Linked DNA regions of Homo sapiens: region 2 is linked to region 1. The links come from fine-mapping of genetic effects on gene expression. A gene starts in region 1. The other region holds a variant in brackets. All regions are shown on one strand. Distances are from middle to middle.

The links. PIP is the estimated chance that this variant, and not a neighbour inherited with it, causes the effect.
Region 2: its variant is fine-mapped to the expression of FAM3A in monocytes after LPS (Fairfax 2014, PIP 0.92).

The regions. Positions count from the first base shown.
Region 1 is chrX:154,507,180-154,522,830 of GRCh38, forward strand. FAM3A (FAM3 metabolism regulating signaling molecule A) reads right to left here and starts at 9,053. Exons shown (of 9, transcript NM_021806.4): 1 at 8,581-9,053; 2 at 5,644-5,757; 3 at 4,669-4,692; 4 at 1,295-1,418; 5 at 1,110-1,168; 6 at 632-682; 7 at 227-311; 8 at 24-150. The coding sequence starts at 8,593. It overlaps LOC124905229 (a long non-coding RNA gene), which reads left to right and starts at 8,301. Exons shown (of 2, transcript XR_007068357.1): 1 at 8,301-8,536; 2 at 15,426-15,651. RefSeq lists enhancers at 8,321-8,944, 8,945-9,567 and silencers at 8,918-9,327, 9,543-9,699.
Region 2 is chrX:154,645,614-154,661,264 of GRCh38, forward strand. It overlaps CTAG2 (cancer/testis antigen 2), which reads right to left and starts at 7,966. Exons shown (of 3, transcript NM_172377.5): 1 at 7,634-7,966; 2 at 6,884-7,018; 3 at 6,364-6,654. The coding sequence starts at 7,902. The coding sequence ends at 6,516. LOC105373387 (a long non-coding RNA gene) reads left to right here and starts at 8,122. Exons shown (of 2, transcript XR_938543.3): 1 at 8,122-9,391; 2 at 9,478-9,756. It also overlaps the pseudogene IKBKGP1 and the pseudogene OR3B1P. The variant G/A (reference allele first, on the strand shown) is at 7,644.

The sequences.
Region 1 (15,651 bases):
GTGATGCCAGGCACCCCCCATACCTGCTCAAAGGGGCTCTTGTTCTGCACACCCTTGGCCCCGACAAACACCCAGCTGTCCCGGAAGGCCAGCTCCTTGGCGTTCCTGCTGCCCAGCTCACTGAAGAGCTTTCTGGTCTCTTCATTCATCCTGCAGCATGGGAGGAAGGGGTGTCAGCTGTTGCTGCAGAAGGGCAAGGCTGAGGCTGGCCTCCCCAAGCACCTACTTGGTGGCTGGGTCGTCGTAGGATGCCACGAACACCAGGGTGCCTTCGTGCAGTGGCCGAATAAACTTCAACAGGTCGTTGACATCTGGGGGGGCAGGTGCCACGGAACAGGGGTCATCAGGCACCACTGAGCACCCTCCCACAAGCCCGTTCTCCAAACAAGGAAACAGAAGTAGGGATTGGGCCTGGGACATGCCCCGCCAAGGGACAGGCTGGTGTAGGAAGCTGAGGCATCCCCGTGACCTCCCACAGCCTCCAGACCAAGCTGGCGATGCCCCTGTCCTTTCTGAACCCACGGAGGTGACTGAGAAGCTCCAAGTACAGACAGAGAGAGCAGTGTCTCAGGGGAAGCTGCCCAGGTCATTTTGCTGCAGTCAAAATGCAAGACGCTGCGCTGCAACTCACCTCCGGCCCACATGTCAAAGGCCCGGGCCTCGATGAGCTCGCCGCTGACCCCTGTGTCAGGAGGGAGGGGCCCTGCTGGGTAAGCCAGGCCAGCCTCAGGGCACGGCAGGCGGGTAGCACCGGGGGTGGGGGGCAGCCCTTCTGGAAGCTTTCAAACAGTCCCCCAATATTCATCCATTTGTTCAGGCAGCTGCATCCCACCCCAAGCCGTGGTGCCTCTGTCTGGCATTTGAGGCCCTCCGGGGGCTCTCCATGAAGCACCCTCAACCTCCCAGAACCTTCCCTAGTTCTTTATTGCCATCATGCTTTTTTGTTCATTGGGTCACTCCTCTGTGGAGCCTTGCGCTTGCACAGACTCCTTCCCAGGCCTCCCTGGGAGATCTTGAATGGGAGGGGAAGGGAGGGCAAACACCCAGAGGCCTCCTGGGGAGGGAGCAGGGAAGGAGGGCGGCAGGCCACGCTCAGCCAGGGGCCTCACCGTTCACCAGGGCGATGTTCAGCCCGCGGCCCACGTTGTCCTTGACGCTGCTCATCAGCCTAGTTGGGGGGGGGTGGGGGGGACGGGGAGATCCCACATGGGCACGTCTGCTCCACTCTCCCTTGCAGACCCGGCCCTGGATCCCCCACTCCCTCCCTGATCCCCAGTCACCCCAGGGAGCTCACATCTTGTCCTCGAGGCAGATCTTGGGCCCAATGACGTTGGCGGCCCCGCTGACCACGCGGAAGGCCAGGTGCTCCTCAGGACACGGCTGGGGCAGGCCACACTTGTACTTCCTGGCCCGTGGCGCTGGGCAGGGATAGCAGGTGTTATCCATGGGCCTGGCCCTGAGGTCACCTGAGATCTGAAGGGGAGGTCAGGACCAGCACACATGGTAGAACAAGTGACCGCAGAGCAGGACACAAGTAGGGGGATGTGGCTCAGGCCGAGGCTGGGGACACTTCCATACTCTGTGTCCTACTGGTGAGGCCACAGGGACCCAAGACAGAAGGATTTTCTGTTACTGGTGGGAGAAAAGAAAGGATGCTGAGGGCTGGCCTGGGCCACTGCACAGCCAGGAACAAAGCAGGGGTGAAGTAAGTCAGGCTGGGGGTCTAGCTGCATGGATGAGGCCAACCTGAGCAAAGGCAGTGTGGCAGGGGGTAGTGTGGCAGGGGGTGCAGCCTGTCTCCCGATTTTGATGGGGGTTGGTTGGGAGGACTGGAGCAGGATGGCTTCTATTATGGGTTGAATTCTGTCCCCTCAAGGTATGCTGAAGTTCTAATCTGTGGTACTTCAGAATGTGATGTTTGCAAATAGGGCCTTTGCAGTTCAGATGGGGTCATACTGGAGTAGGTTGGGTCCTTAATGCAACATGACTGATGTCCTTATAAGAACAGAAGTGACAAAGACACACAGAGGGAAGACAGCCATGGTACAGTGGAGGAAGAGACAGGAGTGACACAGCCAGAGGCCAAGGTATGCCTGGGGCCACTGGAACCTGGGGAGGTCAGGAAGGACCCTCCTGTAGAACTTTCAGGGTGAGTAACGCCCTGCTGACACTTTGATTTCAGACTTCTGGCTTTCAGAATGGGGAGAGAATCCATTTCTGTTGTTTAAGCCACCCAGTTGAAATGGCAGTTCCAGGAAATGGATACAGGTTTTGGCACCAGGAAGTGTGGTGCTTAGGTAACAAATACCTAAAAATGTGGAAATGGCTTTGGAACTGGGTAGTCAGTAGAGGCTTGTCTTAGTCCATTTGCTGCTGCCATAACAGAATACCACAGACTGGGTAATTTATAAAGACAACAGATTCATTTGGCTCATGGTTCTGGAGGCTGGGAAGTCCAAAAGCATGGCGCCGGCATCTGGTGAGGGTCATCCCGTGGCAGAAAGGTGGAAGGTGGAAGCAAGCATATGAGACGCAGGAAAAAAGGGGGCTGAACTTCAAGGTAACTAACTCACCCATAATAGTGGCATTCATCCATTCATGAGGGCAGAGCCCTCATGACGTAACTACCTCAAAAAGGCCCTCCTCTCAATACCAATACATTGACAAATTTCAACATGAGTTTTAGAGATGACATTTAAACCATATCAAGGCTATAGAAGTTTGAGGTACATGTTAGAAAAGGTCTGGATTGCCTTTAAGAGACTGTTGGTAGGAGTATGGATGTTAAAGGTAATTCTGGTGAGAGGAGGGGAGAGCAATAGAGACAGCCTCTGTGGTCTTAGAGAATACAAATATCATCAAGAACAGAACGTTGCTAGAAACATGAATGTTAAAGGTGCTTTTGGGTTGGGTGTGGTGATTCACGCATGTGATCCCAGCACCTTGGGAGGCCAAGGCAGGAGCATCACTTGAGGCCAGGTGATCAAGACCAGCCTGGGCAACATAGTGAGACCCCGTCTCTACAAAAAATACAAAATAAGCTGGGTGTGGTGGTACATGCCTGTAATCCCAGCTACTCAGGAGGCTGAGGCAGGAGAATCACTTGAGCTATGATTGCGCCACTGCCCTCCAGCCTGGGTGAGAGAGCAAGACCCTGTCTCAATACATTCAAAAAATAAATAATAAAAAATAAAACATTAGCTGGGTGTGGTGGCACATGCCTGTAGTCGCAGCTACTTGGGAGACTGAGGTGAGAGGATCGCTTGAGCCCAGGAGTTTGAGCTTACAGTGCACGGGGATGATACCACTGAACTCCAGCCTGAGCAACAGAGTAAGACCTCTGTCTCTACCAAAAAAAAAAAAAAAAAAAAAAGGTGCTTTTGGTTAAGCCTCAGAGGAAAATGAGGGACATGTTATTGAGTTATTGGGCGCTGGAGGAAAGCTGATCCTTGTTATAAAGGAACTTGGCCCAGGTGTGGTGGCTCACGCCTATAATCCCAGCACTTTGCGGGGCCAAGGCGGGAGGATCACTTGAGGTCAGGAATTCGAGACCAGCCTGACCAACACGGTGAAACCCCATCTCTACTAAATATGAAAATTAGTTGGGTATGGTGGCAGGTGCCTGTAATCCCAGCTAATCAGGAGGCTGAGGTGGGAGAATCGCTTGAACCCGGGAGGCGGAGGTTGCAGTGAGCCAAGATGGCTCCACTGCACTCCAGCCTGGGTGACAGAGCAAGACTCCGTCTCAAAAAAAAAAAAAAACTTGGTTGAATTGTGTTCTAGTGTTTTGTCGAAAGGAGAATGTGTAAGTGCTGGGTGCTGAACTTGGATATTCAGCTGAGGAGATTTCCAAGCAGTGTTGAGAGCGTAGCCTGACTTCTCCTTGCTGCTTATAGTAAAATGTGAGAGACATAAGGAAGAAACTGTTGAGCACAAAGGAGCCAGAAAGCGAAGATGTGGAAAATTCTTGGCCTAATCATATTACAAAAACTGCAAAAGTGTCCCCTGGACAGAACAGCAAGGCTGTTCAAGCGTTTGCCCCAGAGCTGAGGTATGTGACTCGTGGGTCCACTCAACCCTTTCAGCAGAAATCTACAATGAAGATGGGGTTATCTAGGAAGCGTCTGTGGGAAAACTCTCTGATTTTATAGCTTGGGCCTCTATAACTTGCAAAAGAGACCAACAAGGCTCTTGAGAATCTGACACCAGCAGAAACACTGCCGGCCTGGAGTGAAGGGGGCAGAGATGAGATAAAGGGAAGGAAGGGTGGCCCCGAAGGTGGGGCTGTCTCGTTTCAGAGCATGGGTCATTCCAGCAGGCCCAGAAGAAAGAATCTCAGGCCACAGAGGATTCCCCTCAGGCCTTGAAACCAAATGAATTTTGCCCTGCTGGGCTTTGGACTTGCTTGGGACGGGTGACCTCTTTTTTCCTTCCAAGTTGCCCTTTTGCAGTGGGAGTATCTATCCTAGGCCTGCCCCACCGTCATATTCTGGCAGGAAGTAACTTGGCAGGAAGTAACTTGTTTTGTAGGTTGACAGTGGCAAGCAGCCCCCGTGGACCACCACAGCTGGTTTGGGGAGGAATAAATGGAAAACCGAAGCCCTACGGGACCGGGGGCAGGCAGGGATGTCACAAAGGGGAGGAGCAGGGAGGTGACAGGGGCCTTACCTGCAGTCACCGAGCTCTCTGGACCTGTGGATACAGAGTGGTTTCTGTTAGTGTGGAGCCTCCCGGGGCCTGCGGCAGGGCAGCCTGGCCCTCCTTACACCGCGAAGTGTAGACACAGGCAGTCAGGCTCAGGGGCCGGGGGCTAAGCCAGGCCGACCTTGGCATGCTTCCTGCTCAAGTGTAAGTCATGTTCAGATGAAAAACTCCCTACTCTAGGAACAGGGGGAAATGGAATTAGAAAAACTACTTAGATGACCTGGCCGGGCATAGTGGCTCATGCCTGTAGCACTTTGGGAGGCTGAGGCGGGTAGATTGCTTGAGCCCAGGAGTTTGAGACCAGCCTGGGCAACATGGTGAAACCCCATCTCTACTAAAAATACAATAATAATAATAATAATAATAATAATAATAATAATAATAAGAAGAAGAAGAAGAAGAAGAAGAAGCCGGGTTTGGTGGTGCGCACCTGTAGTCTCAGCTACTCGGGAGGCTGGGGCACTAGAATCGCTTGAACCCAGGAGGTAGAGGTTGCAGTGAACCGAGATTGCACCACTGCACTCCAGCCTGGGAGACAAAGTGAGACACTGTCTCAAACAAACAAACAAAAAAGTACTCAGGTGACCTATTACCAGTCAACAAGGTGGAGAGTCCCCTCTCCATCTCAGAGCCTGCAGGGAGCAACCGGGGCATCACTCCCCATGTTCAGTGGAAGCTCCCTACCCCTTACTCTGGCCCTACTGACTCCAGTTGGGCATATAATTCTAGTGATCAGGTATTGGCTTTCCTAGATGAAGCAACTGGGTGTTGGGGGAGGCTGCGCCTGATGCCAGGAGACAGACTGGGGACAGCCAAAGGTAGCCTGCCAGGGAGGAGATAGAAAACCCAAGTCAACTCCCAACCCAGAGCCTCAACCACAGGCCCAGGTGGCCACCTTGGTGGCCTCCAGAGAAGGATAAGGCGGGGTCCCACACTCACTGGTGAAGAGTTGCTGGATGCGAGGAAAGCCACTGCCAGGCCCACCCAGGAGGATGCTGACCACGATCCATGTGACACCCACACTGACGACTAGGACCACAATGCGGAGAGGGCCTGGAGGCAGGATAGACACAGGGTGGGGTCACCTCAGATACCAGCGAACCCCAGAATGACCCCATAGCCTTGCATGACTGGATCTCCCCTGCCACTTGGGAAGAAGTGGCTGGAGGACAAGGAGGTGGAGACCTGTTGCCTTCTACCAGGGCTGAAAGGGAGACTTGAGCTCCCTGGCAGGTGGAAGGAGGAAATTGAGTTCAAATCCCAAGGCTGCTGGGTTTGGTTTTCCCTGGCGGGTCTGGGAGGGGGCCTTCCAGAACTCTCTGCTCGAGAAGGGCTCCAGCCCTCTTTCCAAGAACCCCCTCAACTTCCTGCCTCTGAAACCACCAATATATTTGGGCATCCACCTGCCCCTGCTTTCCTCCTGTTCTGAGGGAGAAGGGTCCCTACTCCCTTTTAAGACCAGTCCCGGCCGGGCGCAGTGGCTCACGCCTGTAATCCCAGAACTTTAGGAGGCCGAGGCGGGTAGATCATGAGGTCAGGTGTTCGAGACCAGCCTGACAAAGATGGTGAAACCCTGCCTCTACAGAAAATACAAAAATTAGCCGGGCATGGTGGCGCGCACCTGTAATCCCAGCTACTCAGGAGGCTGAAGCAGGAGAATCAGTTGAACCTGGGTGGCGGAGGTTGCAGTTAGCTGAGACCATGCCACTGCACTCCAGCCTGGCGACAGAGTGAGACTCTGCCTCAAAACAAAAACAAAAACAAAACAAAACAAAACCAAAACAACAACAGTCCCGTCATCTGCTGGGACCTGGATTGCAAGCTCCCCAGCCTTCTCTGATTTCTTGTAATAGTGATCACTCTCTCTAGTTCGCTCTTTCTCCTGTATTTTCAACATCTCCAATGTTAAGGAAGCAAAGAAAACACTCTTCTTCAAAACCACATCCCCATCCTCTTTCCCCTAACCTTTCTTTTCCCTGTCAACCCCCTCAAAAGTCATCTATACTCATTCCATCATCTCACCTCCTACTCCCTCCCACCCTACTCCAGTCTGGCCTGGCTTCCACCACCTCACCAAATCAGCTTGTTGCCAAGGCCACTGATGACCTTTGTGGTGTCACCACCCCTGGTGACCTGTCAGCCTTGATCTTCCTTGACCTCTCAGTGGGCTGCCCATGTCCACCTGACAGAAGCACTAACTTCTCTGCTGGCTTTCCGGACAGCACACTCTCCTGACCCAATCTCTCTGGACACTCCTCATTCTCCTTAGTTAGATCGTCTCCTCTACCCTCCCCTTAAAAGCTGGACTTTCCCAGGCTCCCATCTCAGGCTGCCTTCTGGTCCCTACCTGTAGTGTCTTTTTATTTTTTTTATTTTTGAGACGGAGTCTTGCTCTTGCCCCCCAGGCTGGAGTGCAATGGCGCGATGTCGGCTCACTGCAACCTCCGCCTCCTGGGTTCAAGCGATTCTCCTGCCTCAGCCTCCCAAGTAGCTGGGATTACAGGCGCGCACCACCGTGCCTGGCTAATTTTTTTTTTTGAGACAGAGTCTTGCTCTGTTGCCCAGACTGAAGTGCAGTGGCGTGATCTTGGCTCACTGCAAGCTCCGCCTCCCGGTTACACGCCATTCTCCTGCCTCAGCCTCCCTGGTAGCTGGGACTACAGGCGCCCGCCACCACGCCCGGCTAATTTTTTTGTATTTTTAGTAAAGACGGGGTTTCACCATGTTAGCCAGGATGGTCTTGATCTCCAGACCTCGTGATCCGCCCGCCTCGGCCTCCCAAAGTGCTGGGATTACAGGTGTGAGCCACCGCACCCGGCCATGCCTGGCTAATTTTTGTATTTTTAGTAGAGACGGGGTTTCACCATCTTGGCCAGACTGGTCTCGAACTCTTGACCTCAGGTGATCCACCCGCCTTGGCCTCCCAAAGTGTTGAGATTACAGGCGTGAGCCACTGCGCCCAGCTGTCTTTACTTTTTTGAGACGGAGTCTCGCTCTGTCGCCCAGGCTGGAGTTATGCGGTGGCGCAATCTCGGCTCACTGCAACCTCAGCCTCCCGGGTAGCTGGGATTACAGGCACCCGCCACCACGCCAGGCTCATTTTTTTGTATTTTTTTAGTAGAGATGAGGATTCACCATGTTGGCCAGGCTGGTCTCGAACTCCTGACTTCAAGTGATCCTCCCACCTCGGCCTCCCAAAGTGCTAGGATTACAGGCGTGAGCCACCGCGCCCGGCCTGTAGTGTGTTTTTAGATGATGTCATCTACTCCTAGCTCTTTAATTAAGCACCATGTGTCAATGACTTTCTATTTTCTAGTTCCAGCCGTGGCCTCTCTTGAAACCACTCCCTGCCAGCTGGTTCCTCAGTGGCCAGCTCCACCTGGATATGTCCACAAAGTTACCACCTTAGCAAGTCTGAAGTCCAATTCCCGAGTTGTTTCTACTCTCCACCCAGCCCCAACCTATCCCTCCCCAAGGATCTTCATCTTACTTGTCCAGGTGACAGTAGGGCTGTCATCGGGTTCATGTCGAAGCCCACAGCCACTTTTGTCACTTCCCCTCTAAGACCACGCCTCTCCACCTGGACTGCCCACCTCCTCTCTCTCACCACTCATTTTCCAAAAAGCAGCTGGTCTGCTACCTGCGTTGGGAGATACTGACTATACTAATCCTCATGTCATAGCTCGGGGAGCTGACGTCCTCAGAGGTGAAAGGATTTGGTTAAGGTCAAGGAACGAGTGTTTGTGCAGAGTCCTCCATTTCCAAAACCAAACCCAGTGGTTCACCCGGGCCTCTCCAGACACAGATGTCGCGACGCTGGGCCTCCAGCCAGGTGCCCTTTTCAACTCCCTCCCGTTCGCTGTGGAAGCCACCCACCTGCCAACCTCATGTCCACTTCTCCTGCTGGGTTGGGACCGCCGGCAAGTGCACTGTTTGGGGGCAAAGCGGAAGGACAGGTTTGGGTGGGGGTCAGGGGCAAGCCTGTGCGGGACCCCTGCTGGGGGCGGGCGCGATCGGTGCTACGACCTGTTTGTCCAGCCGCCCGGCCAGGCAGGGCTCCTCGGAAACGCGCGGGGAAACCCTGCCTGGCCAGGAGGGGCCTCAGGAACCCGTTGGCTCACGATCTTGCCCACAGGAGCCTCCGGGGCTGGGACGAAGATGTGGTTCTCCTGGGCTCGGGCCGTTCCTCCGGGCCTGGGGGCTGGCGATGCGGGCCGGGCCGGAGATTTCTCTGGCCGTGGGGAGACGTGGGCTCGGTCAGGGAGGTTCCCTGTCAGGCCCGCCGACCCGCTCCGCCCCGGGAGAGGACGCAAGGCCGCTGCGCAGGGTGGCCAGGCAGGCCCGGCAATGGCGGCTAAGGGCGGGGCCACAGCCCGCCGGCCCCGCCCCCGGCAGCAGCTGCGCCGTCTGGCTCCACGCAGGCCCCGCCTCCAGACCCGCCTCTACCGCTCGCGCTGGCCGCCGCATGGGAGGGGCCTGAACCTGTCCCGCCCCGAACCTGTCCCGCCCCTGGATCCCTCGTCGGCCCCACCTCCGCAGTGCGTTCAGGCTGAACCCACCGGCCGCCGAGTGGGAGGGGCCCACGTCGGTCCCGCCCCGGAAGTCTCCCCTCGGCCCTTTCTCGGGTGGGAGAGCCCTGCCTACCCAGGCTTAGAGGGCTGGGGCTGCGCTTGCACCCTGAGGTCAGATTTGTGAGTCGTGGGAAGACGCAGATGGATCTGGGGCAGAATTAGAACCTGTTCCAAAGTTGATCCATGCGCTTTGTAAAGGCAAGGGAGGTACAGAGGCGCAGATAGGGAAGACCGCAGGATCCAGCGTGAGCCTCTGGCTGCCTTTCCTTAGGGTCTGTTTTCTGTCCAGAAGCGCGTTCCTGCTGTCTCTCGTTATCACTTTTATAATGGGACGGGGCGTCTCAAACTATTTCGACATCCTTGAAAACTCTTGCCTGCTCCGCCTGCCTGGTCTCTAACACCCTCCTCCTCAGAGCTGCTCAAGCTGTGTTGTTTACGCCACACCCCACCCTAAAAGCAGAGGAGAATACAACTTTCGGGGGCAGTGGAGGGGGGAGTTTAGCGCTATAACCCGAGGCTTTCACAGCAAACCAGAATTTATTTTGAGGCCTCTCAGGTTCAGCTTTCAAGTCACGTGACTTTCGCGTCCTACACAACTCTTATTTTCACTTGAAAACAAGTGTGACGTCGTGAATTCCCTAACAATAGGAAAAAAGAAGGCTCCAGAAAGAGCGGTGCTTGGCTTTCCCAGCGGCTCCAAATGGTGCCCGGCACCCAGCTGGCTGTATGGACCTGGGGTGGTCTCCGGCCGCAGGCAGACGCGGCCCTTCGGCCTTTCTCCAGTCACCCCAATTCTCCCTGACTGCCTGGCTATCTCCCCTCCGCGCCTGCCCGCACGCTGCCCCCAACACTGCCCGGGCTCCCTCTGCCCATGAGAACACGGGTCAAGCTCCCGTCCCTTCTGCCCTGCCGGCTGCCCCAAGTGCGCCCTGACCACCTACTGCGCTGGCATGGCCGGGGCCACCCTGACAGCTGATCCATCATCTGTCTGGAGAGCAGCAGCAGGGCCCAATGAGAACCACGGAAACCTCCCTGCCCTTTGACCCAACTTACGGGAATCTCCTACCCTTAGGGAAACAATGCAAAATATAGAGAAAGTTTATAGAGCCGGGCATGGGAGAGCCCTGGTTAGAATCCAGCAGCTTCTATACTGGAGTACTCAACAGGGTCAAGGTCCCTTTCAGCTGCCTGCTGCTGGGGCCAGGGCTTTGCATTTGCGTTTTGTCATGGAATTTGACAGCCTCTCAAGTAATTATGGTAACGAATCTTGGGCTCCATGCCCTCCTCAGGGGGGCCCAGTCGAAGAAGCTCCAGGTTACTCACACCCTTGAGCTGCCAGCCGGTGTTTTTCAAAGACAATATTTACATGTTGTTCAGAGCAGGCATTTATGAAAGTGTTGCTTTAATGAGTCCCCCTGAGCATTCCGAGACAACTCTCCCTTCCTTGGGGACACCACGTGGGTGATGGGCCAGAGGCCTGGGATTCAGTTCCACGTCTTCCGTGCTTCCTGGGGCAGCCTTGCAAAAGTCCCTTATTTTCTCTGGGATGGTTTGGATTCCTGTGGGGGTCTGGCCAGCACGGTGACTAGAGCACATGGTCTGTCACCATCCAGGCCAACGTCCTGGGGTACACTCACAGTCATCTGTTCTTCCAGGTCAGCCCTCATAGATCAGGGCAGCTTCAGCAGTTCTCAAATAGCAGATGTTACAAAATGGGGGTGGGCAATCCTGCAGCAGACGTCTCTGCACTTTCTGTTAGAAGGACACCCCAGGTATTTTTGAGCACTGTTCTGAAGACGGAAAAATCCAGAGTATACATACACTTAAAGCTGGGAGGGGCACCTGCCGGGGAGAATGCATAAGGGATAGAAACAAAAATAGAGGGCCGAAGCCTCTGCCAGGCAGAAGACACTGAGTTCTCAGCAAAGAGAACACCTTTCAGTGCTGTGGTCAAAGGGATGTCAAGCCTCCTGAGGCCCGGAAAGAGCAGGAAACTGAGGGCAGAATTGGAAAAAATCAAGTTACAGACACACACCACGGGATAACCTCTATACAGAGAGGAGCACACCCAAAATAATACTATATATTTATAGATGTACTTTTGTATTGGGGTAAGACATATATAACATAACATTTGCCATCCAAATCATTTTAAGTATACGATCCTGTGGCATCAGTTACATTCACAATGTTGTACAACCATCACTACTATCTTTTTGTGTGTGTGTATATTACTTTTTTTTTTTTTTCCCCCGAGACAGAGTCTTGCTCTGTCTCCAGGCTGGAGTGCAGTGGCTCAATCTTGGCTCATTGCAACCTCTGCCTACCAGGTTCAAGCAATTCTCCTGCCTCAGTCTCCTAAGTAGCTGGGATTACAGGTGCCTGCCATCATACCCAGCTAATTTTTATATTTTTAGTAGAGACGGGGTTTCAACATGCTGGCCAGGCTCGTTTCAAACTCCTGAGCTCGTGTTCTGCCGGCCTTGGCCTCCCAAAGTGCTGGGATTACAGGCGTGAGCTACTGTGCCCGGCCATGTATTACTTTTATGGGCTCATATATATGTCCATAGAAATATAGAGTTCTTTTAAAAATTCTATCAATAGATATTTCTTTTTCTCTTTTCTTTTCTTTTTTTTTTTTTTTTTGAGTCAGAATCTCACTCTGTTGCCCAGGCTGGAGTGCAGTTGCGTGATCTCGGCTCACTGCAACTCCTGCTTCCCGGGTTCAAGTGATTCTCCTGCATCAGCCTCCCGAGAAGCTGGAACTACAGGCGTCTGTCACCATACCCGGCTAATTTTTTTGTATTTTTAGTAGAGATGGGGTTTCACTAGTTGGCTAGGCTGGTCTCGAACTCCTGACCTCAGGTGATCCGCCTGCCTCGGCCTCCCAAAGTGCTAGGATTACAGGCATGTGCCACCATGCACGGAAATCAATAGATATTTCATTTCCACCAATACAGAAGCATCAGTTAACAGTGACTGGTTGACACTTTTAGAAAGTGGCTTGAGAAGGGCCCTGAATGAGCCACCTACGTGGAACACAGAATTTGAGATGTGCAAATGTGGAGACCTGAAGGCTTGTTATGGGAACAAAAGGTGGCTGTGTATAGAGAGGAGCGCAGATAAAGGGGACTTATCAGCAGTCGCAGGGAGTTCATGCTCAACAACTGGCAACAAGCGGGGCAGCTACAGGCTACTCAACTGGGGATTGATGCGCGGTGCCTCTGAGGTTCAGCTCTGGGCCTGATCGTCCAAGAAAGGGCAGCTAAGGTGGGCATAGTGAATCACGCCTGTAATCCTAGGACTTTGGGAGGCTGAGGTGGGCATAGTGAATCACGCCTGTAATCCTAGGACTTTGGGAGGCTGAGGTGGGCATAGTGAATCACGCCTGTAATCCTAGGACTTTGGGAGGCTGAGGTGGGAGGATTGCTTGAAGCCAGGAACTTGAGACCAGCCTGGGCAACAAAGTGAGACCCTGCATATATATATATATATATATATATATATATATATATATTTACACAAATAAATAAAGGGCAGCTAGACTCCACAGAAACCATGTTGAAGATTCCTGTGCAGGAAGGGGGTGATAAAATGCAGAAACCTGACCTGACACAGCCAACACATAACTGCATTGCCTCATTTTTCACGATTTTTTTCTTTCTTTTTGGAGAGAGGGTCTCATTGTGTTGCCCAGGCTGGAGTGCAGTGGCGCAGTCACAGCTCACTGCAACCTCTGCCTCCCAGGCTCAAGCGATTCTCCTGCCTCAGCCTCCTCAGCAGCTGGGATTACAGGCATGTGCCACTACTGGCCGGCTAATTTCTGTATTTTTAGTAGAGACGGGGTTTCACCATGTTGGCCAGGCTGGTCTTGAACTCCTGGCCTCAAATGATCCACCTGCCTCGGCCTCCTAAAGTGCTGGGATTACAGGCGTGAGTCACCACGCCCAGCCATTAATTGCCAAGTCTCATTGGCTCCTAGTGTCTTAATCCACATCTGCTAAAGTTGTTTAAGGTACAGCTAAAACATCACCCAGGCTGGGCTCAGTGGCTCACACCTGTAATCCCAGTAATTTGGAAGGCCCAGGCGGGAGTATCACTTGAGCCCAGGAGTTCGAGACCAGCCTGGACAACACAGGAAGACCTTATCTCTACCAAAAATACAAAAATTAGCAGCATGTGGTGGTGCACACCTGTGGTCCCAGATACTTGGGAGGCTGAGGTGGGAGGATCACTTGAGCCCAGGAGGTCAAGGCTGCAGTGAGCTATGATCACACCACTGCACTCCAGCCTGGGCAGCAGAGCAAGGCCCTGTCTCAAAAAAATAAAATAGGGGCCAGGCACGGTGGCTCACGCCTGTAATCTCAGCACTTTGGGAGGCTGAGGCAGGTGAATCACCTGAGGTCAGGAGTTCAGGACCAGCCTGGCCAACATGGTGAAACCTCGTCTCTACTAAAAATACAAAAATTAGCTGGGCATGGTGGTACACGCCTGTAATACCAGATACTCGGGAGGCTGAGGCAGGAGAATCGCTTTAACCTGGGAGGTGGAGGTTGCAGTGAGCCGAGATTGTGCCACTGCACTGCAGCCTGGGTGACAGAGCGAGACTCTGTCTCTAAATAAATAAATAAAATAAATAAATAAATAAATAAGGCTGGGTGCGGTGGCTCACGCCTGTAATCCCAGCACTTTGGGAGGCCAAGTGTAGGGAAAAGAGAGATCAGACTGTCACTGTGTCTACGTAGAAAGGGAAGACATAAGAGACTCCATTTTGAAAAAGACCTGTACTTTAAACAATTGCTTTGCTGAGATGTTGTTAATTTGTAGCTTTGCCCCAGCCACTTTGACCCAACCACTTTGATCCAATCTGGAGCTCACAAAAACATGTGTTGTATAAAATCAAGGTTTAAAAGGGACCTAGGGCTGTGCAGGACGTGCCTTGTTAACAAAATGCTTACAGGCAGTATGCTTGGTAAAAGTCATCGCCATTCTCTAGTCTCAATAAACCAGGGGCACAATGCACTGCGGAAAGCCGCAGGGACCTCTGCCCTGGAAAGCCGGGTATTGTCCAAGGTTTCTCCCCATGTGATAGTCTGAAATATGGCCTCGTGGGATGAGAAAGACCTGACCGTCCCCCAGCCCAACACCCGTAAAGGGTCTGTGCTGAGGTGGATTAGTAAAAGAGGAAAGCCTCTTGCAGTTGAGATAGAGGAAGGCCACTGTCTCCTGCCTGCCCCTGGGAACTGAATGTCTCGGTATAAAACCTGATTGTACATTTGTTCAATTCTGAGATCGGAGAAGAACCGCCCTATGGCGGGAGGCGAGACATGTTGGCAGCAATGCTGCCTTGTTATTCTTTACTCCACTGAGATGTTTGGGCGGAGAGAAACATAAATCTGGCCTACGTGCACATCCAGGCATAGTACCTTCCCTTGAACTTAATTATGACATAGATTCTTTTGCTCACGTTTTTTGCTGACCTTCTCCTTATTATCACCCTGCTCTCCTACTGCATTCCTTTTTGCTGAAATAATGAAAATAATAATCAATAAAAACTGAGGGAACTCAGAGGCCAGTGCAGGTCCTTGGTGTGCTGAGCGCCGGTCCCCTGGGCCCACTATTGTTTCTCTATACTTTGTCTCTGTGTCTTAGTTCTTTTCTCAGTCTCTCGTCCCACCCAACTAGAAATACCCACAGATATGGAGGGGCAGGCCACCCCTTCACCAAGGGGCCAAGGCAGGCGGATCATGAGGTCAGGAGTTCGAGACCAGCCTGGCCAAGAGACCAGCCTGGCCAATATGGTGAAACCCCCGTCTCTACTAAAAATACAAAAATTAGCCAGGCATGGTGGCGGGTGCCTGTAATCTCAGCTACTGGGGAGGCTGAGGCAGGATAATTGCTTGAACCCAGGAGGTGGAGGTTGTGGCGAGCCGAGATCATGCCACTGTACTCCAGCAGCCTGGGCAATAAGGGTGAGACTTCATCTCACCAAAAAAAAAAAAAAAGCAGCTCCACTAGGAAGACTAAAATACTAAAATGATGGTGTGCTAACTTGAACAGTTAGGTTGTACAAGAAAGGACTTGACAGTTCCCTTTCTGATGTCCTCCAAGACATGGGTTCCATTTATATGCACCTTGTTCTTTCCTCAGACCTGTAACTTCAGCCTGGAGTTGAGCAGAAACATGGCTTCCTTGTCTTCAAGTCATTCTTGGGCTTCAGAGCGAAGATGCTGGACCTTTGAACCAACAAGCAGGTTACTGGTACCTTTGCCCTGAGAATACGCTGGTGGTGCTTGTGGCTGCAGTGTTTACCCCGAGATAACTTTGCCATGAAGTATCTTCCTTTTATTATTTTTTCATCGCTCTAGTATATCGA
Region 2 (15,651 bases), 140 kb after region 1:
TGGGACCCAGGTCCCGGATGCCTGGCCCAGACCTCTCCCGACGTCTGCCCCGACGTGTTTACGCAGCCTGCCCCGGTCTATCCTCATCAAGGAGCACCCTGGAGGCCCCTAAACCCACCTCATTGCTTTTGGAAACCCTGCAAGGGGTCTCCGGAGCCGGCTCCCCCGACTCACCGACCCTCCAGAGCCTGGCATTCCTTAGTGGCAGCCTCCAAGCGACTCTGGCTCTCCTGCAGCTCCCCGAGCAAGGACGTCACCTGGGCTTTCACAGAGGCCTTGTCCTCAGCCATCTGCTGCAGGATAAAAAGCCACTTCCTGTCAGCACTGCTTTCTCCCCAGCGGCCCACTCCTGCCATCCGCAAGCCCGGGGCAACCCGCAAGCGGCTGAGGCCTGCGCGCCATGAGGCCTTTTTTCCTGCCCTCGGCACCCCCAAACCTGGGTGCCCTAGGGCCTCATGAGCCCAAGGGCCACCCAACCCTCCCCAGCTGCCCACCTTAACCCTCTGCCACAGGGTGACACACAGATGGGGCAAAAAGAGATCCCCAAAGAGACGAAGGAGCACAAAGCTGCCTTGAGGTTGTCAACGGCTTAGTCACTGCCCCGGCAAGCAGGCCTCGAGGGCTGAACCCGGTGGCCTTGCAGCTACAGCCCCAGCAGGGGATCTCTCTCCGTCTCTCTGAGACTTGGGACAAAAGGAGGCCAGACACGAATAGGGCAAAGTAAACACAGGCCCCAGTCCACACCCGGGGCCGCCAGGATGGGAGAGTTTGTGCAGATCAAGAGTGGACACTGAATTTTGTTAAACACTGGGAACTGCAGAACCTCTCGGCAGGCACACTGCACTCAAACCCCTGCCCGAAGACACCCGGCCACCACCTCGCGGGGCCTCTGGGAGCCTAAGGCCGCGCCCCTGGGACGCCCCAGCCCCCTTTTGAGTGAGTTCCCGTCTGGAAACGCTCAGGGCTGCCCAGAGCATGTACTGTCTGTTCCGGCCAACACCTGACCTCCCTTTCTGACAGCATTTACTACAAAGGGCTTACCCTGTCCCTTTGAGACATCTGTGTAGCACCCACAACCCAGGGGCTTTCCCGAGGGCCCCGCAGCCACTCCTTGGAAACGGAAACCTCAGGAGGCGCGGGGCCCAGTCTCCCAGTCTCCACGGGACGGAAGCATCCCAACCTTGGTAAGCACCGGCAGCTCCCACACACGGCTGGCCTCGCGGCAAGGACGCTGGCTGCCCCGTCATCTTTCACCTGAGCCTGCACTCGCCCCCTCCCGACTCCCTCCTTCTCCCTTCGCAAGGCCAGGCCGCCTCTGCTGGGGCGGGAACGGAGCTCAGCTCTCTCCCCCGCAAGCAGGGGTTTCTGAAGAAGATCTCTTTTGCCAGCTTGAACAAAGGCCCGCTTTTGTGTACCTTTGTGTATCTCCGGTGTTCTTGTCAAAAGAGGAGGACAGGCACAGAGGCCCGCGGGGACAAGGCCACAGGATGACGGAGATGGAGGCTGGAGAGGTGCAGCCGGCGGCCCCCGGCGCCGTGGAGAGGCCTGGAAGGCAGCTCCCTCGCGGCCCTGGCGGGGAGCCCACCCTGCCGACACCACCGCTAGCTCAGCCTCCAGGCCTCCAGAAGCGGGAGGCCACGCGTTTCTGTGGCTTCGGCCCCGCAGTCTGTGGTGCTTGGTCACGGCAGCTGTAGAAAACTCATCCACTTCCCACACAGGAAATCAACGCCTTAAGCCAGGCGCTCTAAGCCCTGAGTGGAGCGGCGTGCACAGCCCACCATCCACGCCTTTCCCCAGGGGAGTGGAGCCTGGCTGTGGCAAGTGCCAGGTACCCGCCAGCAAGTCTCCTCTCCAGCACTTCTCTCCACCTTGCCCCTCAAAGGGAGCACGGCCCCTTCCTGACTACCATCGCCAGGATCCTGCGATCAGCCAAGCCCACACACAAAGACCCTGAAACCAGGCGGTCTGTGCTAATGACACGATTTATGGGGGGAGCCTTGGGCCACACAGCTGGACCTCTGGTGGCTACAGCCGAGTGACCAGGGTTGGCCACGCAGGCGCTCGGTGCCCACGCGGCCCACCCCCCGTGAAAACCCCGGCCGCCACGGCTGGGGTGAGCTTCCCGGTTGTGACTCCGTGCTCGCTGTCCCACACTGTTGCCGAAAGAAACAGGTGCCGTCTGCACAACTCCCCTGGGCGAGGAGCCGCTGAAGCTCACGCCTGGTCTCTCCTGGAGCCCGCCCTGTGCGCCCTGAGCCTTCGCTCACCGTAACCTGTGTCCTTTCCTTGTAATAAACCGGAACTGGGAGTGTGACGGCTTTTCTGAGTTCCGAGCCCTCCCGGCACAGCACTGAGCCCCAGGGTGCTTTGGGGGACCCCGACCACGGGTTCCCTTGTGGAACACTGGCGTCACCGCGGGTTTTCAGAACCTGGCCCTGCCCCGACTACCTGCTGGCATCTCTTCAGGTGCTCCACCTCCCGCAGAGCCTGCTCCTTCTGCCTCTTCAGATCGAGCTTCTCCAGGCCGAGTCTCTCCACCAGTTTCCTGGCCTCCTGGAACTTGCACATGAGGAACTCCTTCTCCTCCCTCTGGCTGGCTTGGAAATGCAGAAGCTCCTCGCAGCGCTCCCGCAGAATCTGGTTGCTCTGCCGGATGGCATCTGGTGGCAGAGGGGACAGTGGAGGGGAGCTGGGCAGCCCGGCCTGCCGGGCCCTGCCTGGGCCCACATGGGCCTGAGGCTCAGGAAGTCAGAGGCCAGAAGTGGGACCACCCATCCTGGTGCCCCCACCCGCCATAATACCACGCAGCTTCTCTCAGGGGTGGATGGCGTCTCAACACTCCCTTTTGTTTCTTTAAACACTTCCAAAATCCTTTACACTAATGCCCCTCACTTTCTGCAAGAAAATAACACCAAACACATCAGCTTCACTTAAAAGTACGTCTCAAATGTCACTTTAAAAAATTTTTTATTTTTGGCTGGGTGGGGTGGCTCACGCCTGTAATCCCAACACTTTGGGAGGCCGAGGTGGGCGGATCATGAGGTCAGGAGATTGAGACCATCCTGGCTAACATGGTGAAACCCCGTCTCTACTAAAAATATAAAAAATTAGCCGGGCGTGGTGGCGGGCACCTATAGTCCCAGCTACTCGGGAGGCTGAGGCAGGAGAATGGCATGAACCCCGGGGGGCAGAGCCTGCAGTGAGCTGAGATAGTGCCACTGCACTCCAGCCTGGGCGACAGAGTGAGACTCCGTCTCAAAAACAAAAAAATTTTTTTTATTTTTGTAGAGACAGGGTCTTGCTCTGTGGCCCAGGCTGGTCTCAAACTCTCGACCCCAAGCGATCTTCTTGCCTCGGTAGGTACACACGCAAAAACAGATGGCCGCAGCCTTCCACACGGCTGACTCTGCAAACAGCGAGATTCTCCCTCTCCCACAGGGCAGTGCGCTCGCGGATACTCCTTTCTCTCCATCTCAGGGACTCACCTCTCTGGGTGTCTGCATGGGAGCCTCGCCCATTCCCCCTCCTCACCAACCTGGCCATTCCGGCGCCCGTGTGGGTGTAAATTGGGGGCATCTTTCAAGACAGGGCAGAAGGAGAACCTGCTCTCTGTCTGCTCTCCACCTCAGGGAGCCCTCCTGCCCTCTTGCGTTTCCTCCTGGGCCCTTGAGGCCACTTGAGGGAAGAGAGGGGAAGCCTAACACACTGGAGACACAGCTTCAGGAAGGAAGACACAGAGCTGAGCCAAACAAAGGAGGCCGCTCTGGGAAGCTCAGGGAATGAGGCCCCAGAGGACAGATGAGCATCATGGGCAGAGCGGGGTCAGATTCCCCGTGAATTCAATACCTCAGCCAAGCAGGGTTTACATCCTAGGGCAGGAGGGGAAGAGGCAGCTCCAATTAAGGAAGGGCCGCCCTCTGGAGACAGGCCCCGGGTCACTCCGGGGGTCTCCCTGCAGCGCCTGTGGTGTTGCTCCCAGACTCAGTGGGCCAGCAGGTCCCTACCTGACAGTTACTGTGCTCCTGGATCTTCATCTTTGCTCCCTGGGCTTCTGCTTTTGTGCCCGTGATGTTGGCTGCAGGGGCCAGTGGCTCAGCACCTGGTCAAAGTTGTCTGGATGCAGTTACAGCTGCAATGCAGCTGGACTTCTGAGTCAGCCCGGCCAGGGTCGCGGCCCTGGGGCATGGTGACCTCTCCCGGTGCTGCTTCCCCTGGGGCACGGTGACCTTGCTGGGGCGGGCACATGCTGGACTCGTGGCCAGGTTTGCCCGGGCCTCCCCGTTTCACCAGGAGTCAAACTCCTCTAACCGCGTGTGACGACCACTCTGCATGTTTGAGAGGACGGAAGTTAAGTGGACTCTTCAGACTTGACTTGGAATTCTGGAATATGAGGGCTAGAGGGAAGCATTAGGGACCTCTTCACCTGAGGCTGGGGTGTGTTCTGCCACAGCCCTGACCCATGCTCCCACCAGCTGTGACAGAGCCCTCAAGGGCTGGAGCGCTCACTGGCTCCCAAGGAATCCCGCTGGCATGACAGGAAGGTCTCTCTGACATTGCTGCTGGTCTTTCAGTTTTCCTTTGCGCACCTCGGGCTGAAACAGAGCGAGTTCACTGCGTCCCTGCATTCCAGGAAGCTCCCCAGGTCTCAGCGTCCTCTCTCAGCTTCCATCCGTCCCTGGCCTTGACAGAGAGCCGGGCCTCTCCTAACACACCACCGATCCAGAGGAGAAGGAAGCCGCTCACACCCTCCGGGGCAGGCATGCGGAGGTGGCATTCGCCTGGCTTCCTGCTGGGACTTCCTCACAGCGTGCCCACGTCTCTTGGAAAAACTCCTCTGCTCTGAGACAGAACCGGCTTTGGCACAGCCTGGATGTACCAACCCCCCTCGCCTTCCTCAGTTGTGCAGTGATTTGTTCAGCCTTTCCGCAGCTGGTGGACATTTACATTCTAAAAACTATTTACGTGGTGGTGTCATTAAGATGCTGGTGGATTCTACCTCATTTGCATATCCAGGAGTTTCTCAGATGGATTCCTCAAGGTGGGTGGAAGGGAATGTACATCTTTCCCTTAATAGAAAATGCCAAATAAATGTCCAGATAGATGTTACTACCACTCCTACTGACAGTGTATGAGTCCTCGTTTCCAACTACAGCCTTGCCAAGCATTGGAGATTGTCAACTAATATTATTAATCTTACATTAAAATCTGCTATGTTCCCACCGAGCAAATGCTAAAACAAAACTCAAAGGGATCAAGTTGTCTCCGAGCAACTTAAGAGCATCCCAGAACACAGCTCAAGCATATGTCTGTTTTGCTTTGACAAACAGCCCCTTTCCAACCTAGCTCTGCCCAAGATGGTGCCAGCGTGACCTCCCGGCAGACAAGACACCTCAGCATGTCATGCAGACCCCACAGCTGCCTGCTCCCTCCCCTGCCTACCATTCACGCCAAGTCCTCCTTTAAAAGGCCCTGCTTTCTGCCCCCAATGGGAAGCAGTGCTCTTAAAGGCAGGAGCCTGTACGTCTTCCCCTAAACCAAGCATGGCAGAAAGTCAGTTTCTTTACAGGAAACCTTGCTCTTGTTCATTAGACTCTGCAAGCAGTAAGAGAATCTGTGTTAACATTACGTGTTTACAAACATTTTACGCTGTTCACATTTACTATTATTATTACTTTAGAGTCAGGGTCTCGCTCTGTCGCCAAGGCTGGAGCTCAGGGATGCATTCATAGCTCACTGCAGCCTCGAGATCCTGGACTCAAGCCACTTTCCCACGTCAGCCTCCTGAGTACCTGGGACTACAGGTTCCTGCCACCACTCCCTCCACCCCTAATTTTTAAATGATTCTTATAGAGATAGAATCTCACTACATTGCCCAGGGTGGCCTCCAACTGCAGGTCTCAAGCCATCCTCCCACCTGAGCCTCCCAGAACAATGGGAATACAGGTGTGGGCCACCATGCCCGGCCCATATCACATGTTTAACAGTGAAATAATGCTGGTTTTATGCATCTATTCAAGTACATGTTTTTGAAGCATTTTTAGAAAGCACAAAAGCTCATATGTTCAATGAAAACAATTTGGGAAAAAATTTAATGCTGACCTGGAAAAACATTATATATGCTACTGTCATATATTTAACATATAAATGCAAGTATATTGAGGAAAATATTCTAAAATGTCCACAGTAGTTAATGCTGAATGGCGGGACCCAGTGGCTTTTCATTTTCCCCCATTTCCCAAATTGCCTCCCGTTACCTTGTGCTACTTCAATCTGTGAATCCCAGAGCCTCCCCTACAACCCGAGGACAAGGGCATGCAAGTCCGAAGGTGCCTTCGCTCGCCGAAAAGAGACTCAGACACGGAATCGTAGCTCAGCTTTATTTTCTACAGAAACAAACATGTAAGCCGTCCTCCTCCAGCGACAAACAATCAGGCCCCCACAATGAACTGGCCACTCGTGCTGGGACCATTCCCTAGGGGAGGAGGCATGACCTAGGAAGGGGCGCCAGGCTGGGCTTAGCGCCTCTGCCCTGAGGGAGCCTGAGCCAAAAACACGGGCAGAAAGCACTGCGTGATCCACATCAACAGGGAAAGCTGCTGGAGACAGGAGCTGATGGAGAGCTGCAGTTGGCGGTGGTCTGCAGCAGTCAGTCGGCTAAATGTGAGGGGCAGAGAACATCACATTAAAGGCGACACCTCTGCACCCATCTCCCTGGGCTCCCTCGGGTGGCGGCGGGCCTGGTGTACCAGGTCTCTGTTCTGAGACCTTGTGTTTGGGTGTTCTGAGATCTCTAGCTTTCTGCCCCTCCGGGGAGGCGGATCCCAGCCCCCAACCCACCACCCTCATCCGCCCAGCGCCTTCCCTGTCCTGGTCCCGAACTGACATAAACAGTAGGTTGCCGGACACGGTGAAGTCCTTCAGAACCGCCCCTGGTCGGGGGAGCGGTGCGGCATCCCGGGACAGGATCCTGCGGACCAGCTCCGCTTCCATGGGCGACGAGAAAGGCATCGTGATGTGCCTGGTGGGGACCCAGTTAAGGTGCCATCTCCTAGGATTTGGCCGGTGCCCATCTCATCCCCTCAGGCTGTCTCCCCACGCACTGGCCCAGGTCCTGCAGCAACCCCACCCAGCTGTCTTGATTCCCCACTTTCCTCTGTTGCACCTCAAGCTGACTCCTGCGTGCCCTTCCAAGGCCCTCCCCACCATGCCCCCTGCCGCATCAGCCGGGACCTCTCCCCATCGCTTGACACCACCCCCATCCAGCCCACACCCCAGCCACCGGCTCCCACCTTGCACGCTTCCCCCCAACTCCTGATCCCTTCACACACCCAAGAACCCCTGTCTCCTGTCCCCCTGCCCCTCACCCCATCGCCCAGCACCCAACTGTGCACACGCTCCACCTCCCATCCCCTACCTACTCCCTTCCTCTGAGCCACCCCTCGACCTCCAACTCCCAGCCCCCACCCCCACCCCACCCGGCGCCTTACCCCCATCTCCCAAACCCCACCTTCCGCACCTGGCCCTGCCCTCACCCACCTCCTGGCCCTGCCCCCCACCTCTTGACCCTGTTGTCTCCGTCTCACGGCCCCCACCTCGCCACCAGAACCTCCTAGAACAGAACAGAACAGGATACAACTCAAGCA[G/A]GCGGCTGTCCGGCCTCCTGGCCCCGCAGGGGCACCTTCCATCCTGCGCAGAAGCGGCACCGCCATGCGGACCCCGCGGGGCGCCTCCTCTCGGCCCCGAGGCCCTTGCTGCCCCTGCGCCCCGGGGACCTCTGCCGCCCGTGGCACCCGCCTCTCCTGGGCCGCCAGCATTGCCCCCTGGGCCATCAGGAATGCCAGGGCCTCCTGGGCCATCAGCATCGCCCGTCGAACCCCCTGTGCCCCGGCCTTCGGCCTGCATGGCTCCGGAGCCTCTGCCCGGCTCTCAGAGAGAAGGTCAGGGCCCACGAGGATGCGGAGGCAGAGAGGCTGCAGGAAGTTCCGCCCCCTGGCGTGAGATGGGCAGCCCGGGATCCTCAGGGCGCCTGCGCACAGGGGCCCTACTTCCGGCCCTGGGAGACCCCGAGTGAGCCCCGGAGCACGTGACCGGTTCTCACCAACCCCGCCCCTCCCCAAGAGAGCCCGGGCCGGAAGGTGGCCGCAATGCCAGCTTGGACCCCTCACCCCTGAGCAGCCGGCTGTCCGCCGGACCCCTGTCCCGGGAGCCCTGCAGGGAGTCAGGCACTGCGGGGCCCAGCCTGTCCCATCCCCCGGGTCTCCCTCACATCGAGGAGCAAGACGGGCCTGGGAACACGGGGCCGGGACTGTGCGGCCATCGTCCCGGACCCTGTCTGCCCTGTCCGTCCTTGGGGGAGCGCCCAGGACAGACCCCGGGGGGCAGGCCTCTAACTGGGCTCAGCAGCCTCCGTCCCTGTCCTGGTCGCCCAGCTGGTGGGGTAGCTGGAACTGCATGTCTGGTGGGCGTGGCCTCGCGCCAGCCAAGGTCTCCCAGGCGCCAGGTCCAGCCAAGGTGGACGGGAGGGCCCAGCGGGACCCGGGGCCGGATCTCACTCCTGGGTTCAACGGGTTCTGTCCCTGTCCTAGTCGCCCCGCCTGGTGGGGGAGCTGGAGCTGCGTGTGGGGTGGGTTGCGGGTGGCCTCCCACCAGCCAGGGGCTCCCGGGCTCTAGGCCTGGCCCAGGTGGACAGGCGGGACCTGCTGGACCTGAGGCTGGGTCGGGCCTGGCTCCTGGGTTCGGCAGTATCAGTCCCTGCCCTGGTCGCTCTTGCCTGGTAGGGAGCTGGGAGGTGACCCTGTGTCTGCTGGGTGCTGGCTTACTTCTGTGTCTGGAAGGGGGTCAGATCCACAGGAAAGGTGCTGCGAGAGGCGGGCAGGGGTGGGGGTGGCATGGCCCTAGGAGCTGGGTGTCTGTCCCCACGCCCTGTTCACAAGTCTGTGGGGCGAGAGGCTGCAATACTCCATCCCGGGTGTCTGGGCTGCTCACCAGGCCGGCTCAGGCTTCCCACATCCTGTACCCTGGGTTGGGCATGAAACCGATCCAATCGTCCCATAGGCTGTTCTTTTTGATACACATAGAAACTGACCCTTCTGGTCTTCAAGCTTGAACCTTACAGTTGTTTTATCTGAATTCCTTCCTCAGGAAATGACCTTCGGGCCTCTCAAAATATCAAAGAACTGAAACTCACCAGATAACCACATCCAGACAATGAGATGCTGGACCCCCCAAATTCATCAGGATTGCTTTCTGGGCCCTCCCGAGTTCCTGTTTTCCTACACATTGGTGCATTTCTTCCTGGCTATATAAACCCCTAGTTTTAGTCAGGGGGATGGATTTGAGACTTAACTCCCATCTCCCCGGCTGCAGCACCCAATTAAAGCCGTCTTCCCTGGTAATGCTCTTCGTCTCAGTCAGTCATTGGCTTTCTGTGCGGCCAGCAGCAGGACGTAGACCAAACCCTTGGTATTTCGGTAACAGGCACACCCCCAGGAAGGGACCCCGGACACGGCTACCACCTCTAGGCTTAAAGCGAATGCACTTCCCGCATCTCCAGTCTTCCGTGTAGCAGCTTTAACCTATGTATGTCTGTGCCACATCCAGTCCTCAGACGGCTGAGTGACCCCAAGAAAGGCTTCCCCGACACCCAGACAGAGGCTGCAGGGCTGGGGCTGGGTGAGGGTGGCGGGCCTGCGGGGACATTCTACTGTGCTAAAAAGCCACTGCAGACATAGCAATAAAAACATGTCATTTTCCAAAGCAGGCTCCTGCTTCTGCCTCTGCTGCTCTAAGAAGGGGTCAGGGTGCAGGAGGCAGGGGGAACCTCCTCCAGCTGGAGCTGCTGCGGTGAGCAAGGCTCTGCTCTGGAGGCCTCTGAGGCTGGCACCCTTCTGGGGACTGGGAAGGGGGCAGGGAAGGCAGCAGCCCAGGGAAAGCCTCGTCCCCCTGGAGCCGAGGCAGTTGGGGAGAGCAGGACGAGAGTGAGCTGGAGAGCAGCCACACCGATGGGTAAGGGTGGGTGAAGGGATTCCACAGGTGTCTAGAAAACTGGAAAGAGCTCCTTAGCAGGTCCAGGCCCCAGGTGTAGGGGAGGACCAGATGTGGAGGATGAAGACGGTTGTCCAGAGGGATCTCCAGGCGTTGGCATTATTGGGTCCTACTGAGATGCTGTCAAGGAGAAAACACAGGCTGTGTGTGGCAGGGCGACAAATGAGTGCTGCTGCCAAGCTCTGTCCTGTTTTCTGTGCACGTCTCAGAGCCCCTCCAGTGACCGTCATCTCCGGCCTCCTCCTGCGCCTCTGTGTTCGTAGACATCTTCTCACATCTCAGATCCTGCTGAGCCTCTGGGCCCCCTGCACGTGCCTTCTGCCTCTCGGCTGCTGGGGTGGGGACCTCTGTGCCCTGTGCCAGCGCCTCTCCTGCAGCTCACAACACATCTGCTTTTTCTCCTGCGCCCTGCACAGGGTGGGCCTGGAAGCTCTGGGGAAGTTGTACCCTTGGACACAGCCCCCCACCGATGGGGCCAAGAGTCACTGGATAAAAGTCTTAGTCTCTCACCCTTTGAAGGACAACTCTGAGGTGCGGCTGACTGTGGAGCGAATGAAATGAAACGGATGCACGGGGATGGGTGTGGACAAAGGAATGCCGACTTCTCAGGCTGCCGATACATATCTCAGTAGAAGCACGGGGGAATGCTATATAGAGAAATATTTCTATAGTATCTGAAGTGTTTAGAATGTATTGACCTAATATATACACAATAAAAGTAAAAACATTGGAAGAAAATTTAGATGAACTTTATTTGATTGTTGGAATGGAAAAGACTTTTCTCTCTTTCTTTCTTTCTTTCTCTCCTTTTCTTTCTTTCTTTCTTTTCTTTCCTTTTTTTCATTATTATACCTTAAGTGCTGGGGTACATGTGCACAACGTGCAGGTTTGTTACATAGGTATACATGTGCCATGCTGGTTTGCTGCACCCATCAACTTGTTGACCTAGCAATCCCATTACTGGGTATATACCCAAAGGATTGTAAATCATTCTACTATAAAGACACATGCACATGTATGTTTATTGCAGCACTCTTCACAATAGCAAAGACTTGGAACCAACCCAAATGCCCATCAATGTTAGACTGGATTTTAAAACTGTGGCACATATACACCATGAAATATATGCAGCCATGAAAGAGAATGAGTTCATGTCGTTTGCAGAGACATGGATGAAGCTGGAAACCATCATTTTCAGCAAATTAACACAGGAACAGAAAACCAAACACCGCATGTTCTCACTCGTAAGTGGGAGTTGAACAATGTGGACACAGGGAGGGGAACATCACACACCGGGGCCTGTTGGGGGTGGGGGGCTGGGGGAGGGATAGCATTGGAAAAGACTTTTCTAAGCCTACTAGCAATGAGAATAATAATAACCAATAACATTTGTTGGGTGGTCACCATGTCCCAAGCCACTGTTGTAAGCACTAGACAAGAATTGGCTCATTTATCCAGAAATACACCACATTTTCATTGTCGTTATCCTTGGCGGTGAGATAACGGTTGGTTTTTTATTTTCTCTTCCGAACTTGCCCATATTTCCTCTTCTTTTGCAGTGAACATGTATTACATTTATAAGCAGAAAGCGATTAAGAAAGTTATTCATTACTTGCTGTTGAGGAAAATTTCTAATTAGCTCTGGAGTGAGCCAGTTTGCCAAAGTTTAAATTAGCCTGTTCAATTCATTGGAGGCCATATTTTTCCTCTGAAACTTGTTCTAATTGGCACCTTTTCTTGATGTAATGAGGCGGACGGTGCCGTGATGAAGTCTCTGAAGTCACCGAGCCTCGGGGCCCACGCTAGACACCACGGGGCAGATGTCGCCCGGCTCTCCTGGTCATCTCTGTGGCTTTCAGCCGCTTCCAAAAAACAATTGTTTCCAAATTCCACACACACAGTTCATCCTACCTTGAAAGTTATTCCTCCAGAGGGCTGTTGATAGTTTGCTTCATCAGCATTTTGTCACTATTACACACTGAGATTTTTTTTTTCTTCTGCACCTTGGAGGTACTCATGAAGAACACATGTGTGCTTAAACACAAAACCTACCGAGGCCCATAACAGCCCCTCCCCTCCAGAGGGCCGGTCCTGGTCCACACACGCTGGCAGACAGTCTTTGTGTTTCCGAATCAGAGAAGACTTGCTTGGAATGGATGAAATGTATTTGAAATCACATTAGGCATCATCTGGAATGGTGAAGCTTCAGAGGTGACAGGGCCAGGATGTCTATATTCAAAGAGGGCCATTGAATTAAAGTTAAGCAGGGATCTCTTTGCTTGAATTCCAGAGTTTCAAACCAGCACAGTCATGTGAGCTTGGATGGCCTGTAGGTACTTCCAACCCAACCTGCCCCCAGCTGACCTCACTGCCTGTCCCCCGACTCCCGGAATGGCTTCCCTCTGCTTCATTCTCTGTCTTGGCGACACGCGTTTCCATGGTCCCGCACTCTGTCATCTCACCTTCCGTCCAGTCAGTTTCCTTCAATGTGTCCTCTCCACCCTCCCTAGGCCAGGTCGGCATCATCTCTCACCTATATGATGAGAACAATCTCCCCCGGTCTACACAGATTCCCGGCCCCTTTCCTAGGAATTTGGCCTGAGTGGGGCGGTCTAAGTGGGGATGATGTAGGCTGGCCTCATATGGCCCAGGGGGAGGGCCCAGCCATACCTACCAGGGCTGATGAGCACGGCTTGTTTCGCCCTGTGGGGGTCATTGCAGGCTCTTGTGCGGGACTCGGGATGGGGGTCTGTTGGGAAGCCCCGGATGGCCTAGTGTCCTGGCCTTGAGCCTTTGGTCTTCTCTGAGCGCCCACCCGCCATCACTTGAGAACAGTGAAAGGCAGCTGTGTTGACCCTTTGAGCAGCATGTGGCCGTTCCTAGGTTTGGTGGTAGGGGTGAGTGACCCTTTCCTGTGAAGGAATGGCGAGTAACCATTGTATGACAGTGAATTGTCTTAGTGCCTAATAGCCCAGCCTACTTTGTGAGCTCCATAAAGGCAGGAAGCTTGTCTGGAGCTTTTCTGTATCCCCAGTGCCAAACCCCATAATGGGGAGACACGAGGTACTCTCTCATTCTTTCTTTCAAGAAATATTTCCTGGCCGGTGCGGTGGCTCATGCCTGTCATCCCAGCATGCTGGGGAAGATGGGGTTTAGCATGTGAGTGAGGACCACACATAGCACAGAGAGCACCCAGTCGCCCAAGCCAGAGTATGCAGAGTTGGGAAGGATGTAGCAGGGGACTGAAGTGACGTAGAAAAGACCGATCATAGTGAGATGGGCAACACAGGTAGAAAAGGCTTTTCTTCAGCCCTGGGTGGAATGAATCCTGAACAGCAGCCACAACGTGTCCATAGGAGACCACGACCAGGACGCAGTGTGCAAGAGCCACCAGAAAACTGAAGAACAGGGCAAGTTCATTGGTACGTGTGCTGAAGCAAGAGAGTCTGAGCAGTGACGGAGGTCGCAGAAGAAGTGGGTGATGAGGCAAGGCCTGCAGAACTTGGGTAGAGCTGTGAGGATGCTGTAGGTGAATGCGTTGGCCAAGGCCAGCAGGCAGGAGATGGAAGTGAGGCCCGTGTGGGTCAGTCGGCCCACGAGGACAAAGTAGTGCAATGGCTGGCAGATAGCTGCATAGAATCATAGGCCACGGCTGTGAGGAGGAAGGACTCCTAGGGTGCCAGGAAGTGGAGAAAGCATATCTGGATGAGACAAGCACAATAAAGTACGGGCCCTACCTGAGCCAGCAAATGCACCAGCACCTGAGTCACCATGTTGGAGATACAGGCGGCATCCATCAGCGAGTGGCCGCCCAAGAAGAAGTACATGGGAGTGTGGCGTCGGTAGTCCACTGTGAACATGTGGCTCCCAACCACAACCACTATGTAGATTAGCAGAAAGGTGGTGAACAGCAGGGGCCTCCAAGCCTTGCTGTCCCTCAGGCCTTTCAGAAGAAACTGGGACACTAGGGTCCCATTCCGCAGCTGCTTGGAACCACGCACAGAACCCTGCACCTGTAGTATGCAACTCAGAGTCAGATGAGGGTCTAGGTGTGGAGTCCCAACTTACAAGGGGGGGAGGGGATGAGGGATGGACTAATGACTAGGTAGGCAGGTTTCAGATTTAATGGAGGAAGACTTGTTGGTTCAATACAATGAGGAGCCTCAAATGGCCAGGCAAATCTTTCATCTCCTGTTGAACAGAACCTTTTTTGGGAGAAAGTGATGGGGATCAGCCTTTAGGGTATCCATAGATGGCTTTGCTGGCAAAACTGTGGCAGGTGGGAGGGCAGATACATATACAGAAAATGTCTCTATTCCTGGGACAAAAATCCTCCTGCTCCCTGAATGAGAGAATGGGTCCAATATAATCCACTTTCCACCAGGCAGCTGGCTGCTCCCCTTGAGGTGACAACCTAATAAGCGTTGCTTTACGTTGGGTACACGGCAGAAGTACCCAGATCAGCCTCGGTGTGGTGAAGACCATGTTGTGTCATCCTTCCCGTAGCTGTGTCTCCAGTCTCCCTGTTTGCAGAGTCAGCCCAAGCTGTGTGGAAGCCTGCGGCCACCAGCTCGTGCATACCTACCTATCTATGTGTCCAAAACTAGGTCTGTCAGCTCAAAGACATCAGGACAAAAGACACCAACCTGTCTTGTCTGTGAGGAAGGTGTTGGGGGAGGAAGAGGGTGCCTGGTGTCTGGAGTGGCTTGTGGCTTGAGGGAGCATCTCACCGAGCAAGGTCCCCACAGAGAGCCTACCCCTGGGGCTGACACCGTATCTACGTCCTGTTCTCCGACACTTTGCCCTCTGCAGGCAGCATTCTTCTCTTCTTAGGCCTGTTCAGGAGGAACCTGCAGCCAGAGAACCGGAGCCAAAACCACAGGGCCCTCTGCACCTAGGCCGGAGCATGAGTCGAGGGGTCAGACCAGGCTGGCTTCCCTTCAGTTGTAGCCAACTTAAGTCTTTGCTTTCATTCCCCAGATAATCTGACCCCGTGGAAAGTAATTCAACACTGCAGAAATGACTGAGATGGAGTGAAAGTTTACACATGCACACTCCCCCGACAACCAACAGAGTGACTACTGTTACCACACTGGGTAGGTGCTTCATAGCTAGAGTTCGTGTTCTACATATCACATAAGGCTATATCTTTGTAATTTCTTTCCTTCTACTAATGTTGTGCTTACTTTGTTCTTGTGATTCTAGTTTCTTGAAATGCAACATTAGGTCATTTATTTGAGATATTTCTTCTTTTTGGTGTACGCATTTATTGCTATAAACTTCCCTGTTAGAACTGGTTTTCCTGTATTCCATAGGTTTTGATATTTTTTTCCAATTTCCTTACTCCCAGGGAATGTTTAAATTTCCCTTTTAATTTCTTAATTGATCCATTGATTGTTCAGAAGCATATTTTTAAATTTAGATATTAATAAGGTTTGGCTCTCTGTCCCCAACCAAATCTCGATTCAAATTGTAATCCCCATAATCCCCATGTGTTAAGGGAGGGACTGAGTGAGAGGTGAATGGATCATTGGGGAAGTTTCTCCCATGCTGTTCTCCTCATAGTGAGTGAATTCTCACGAGACGTGATGGTTTTATAAGAATTTG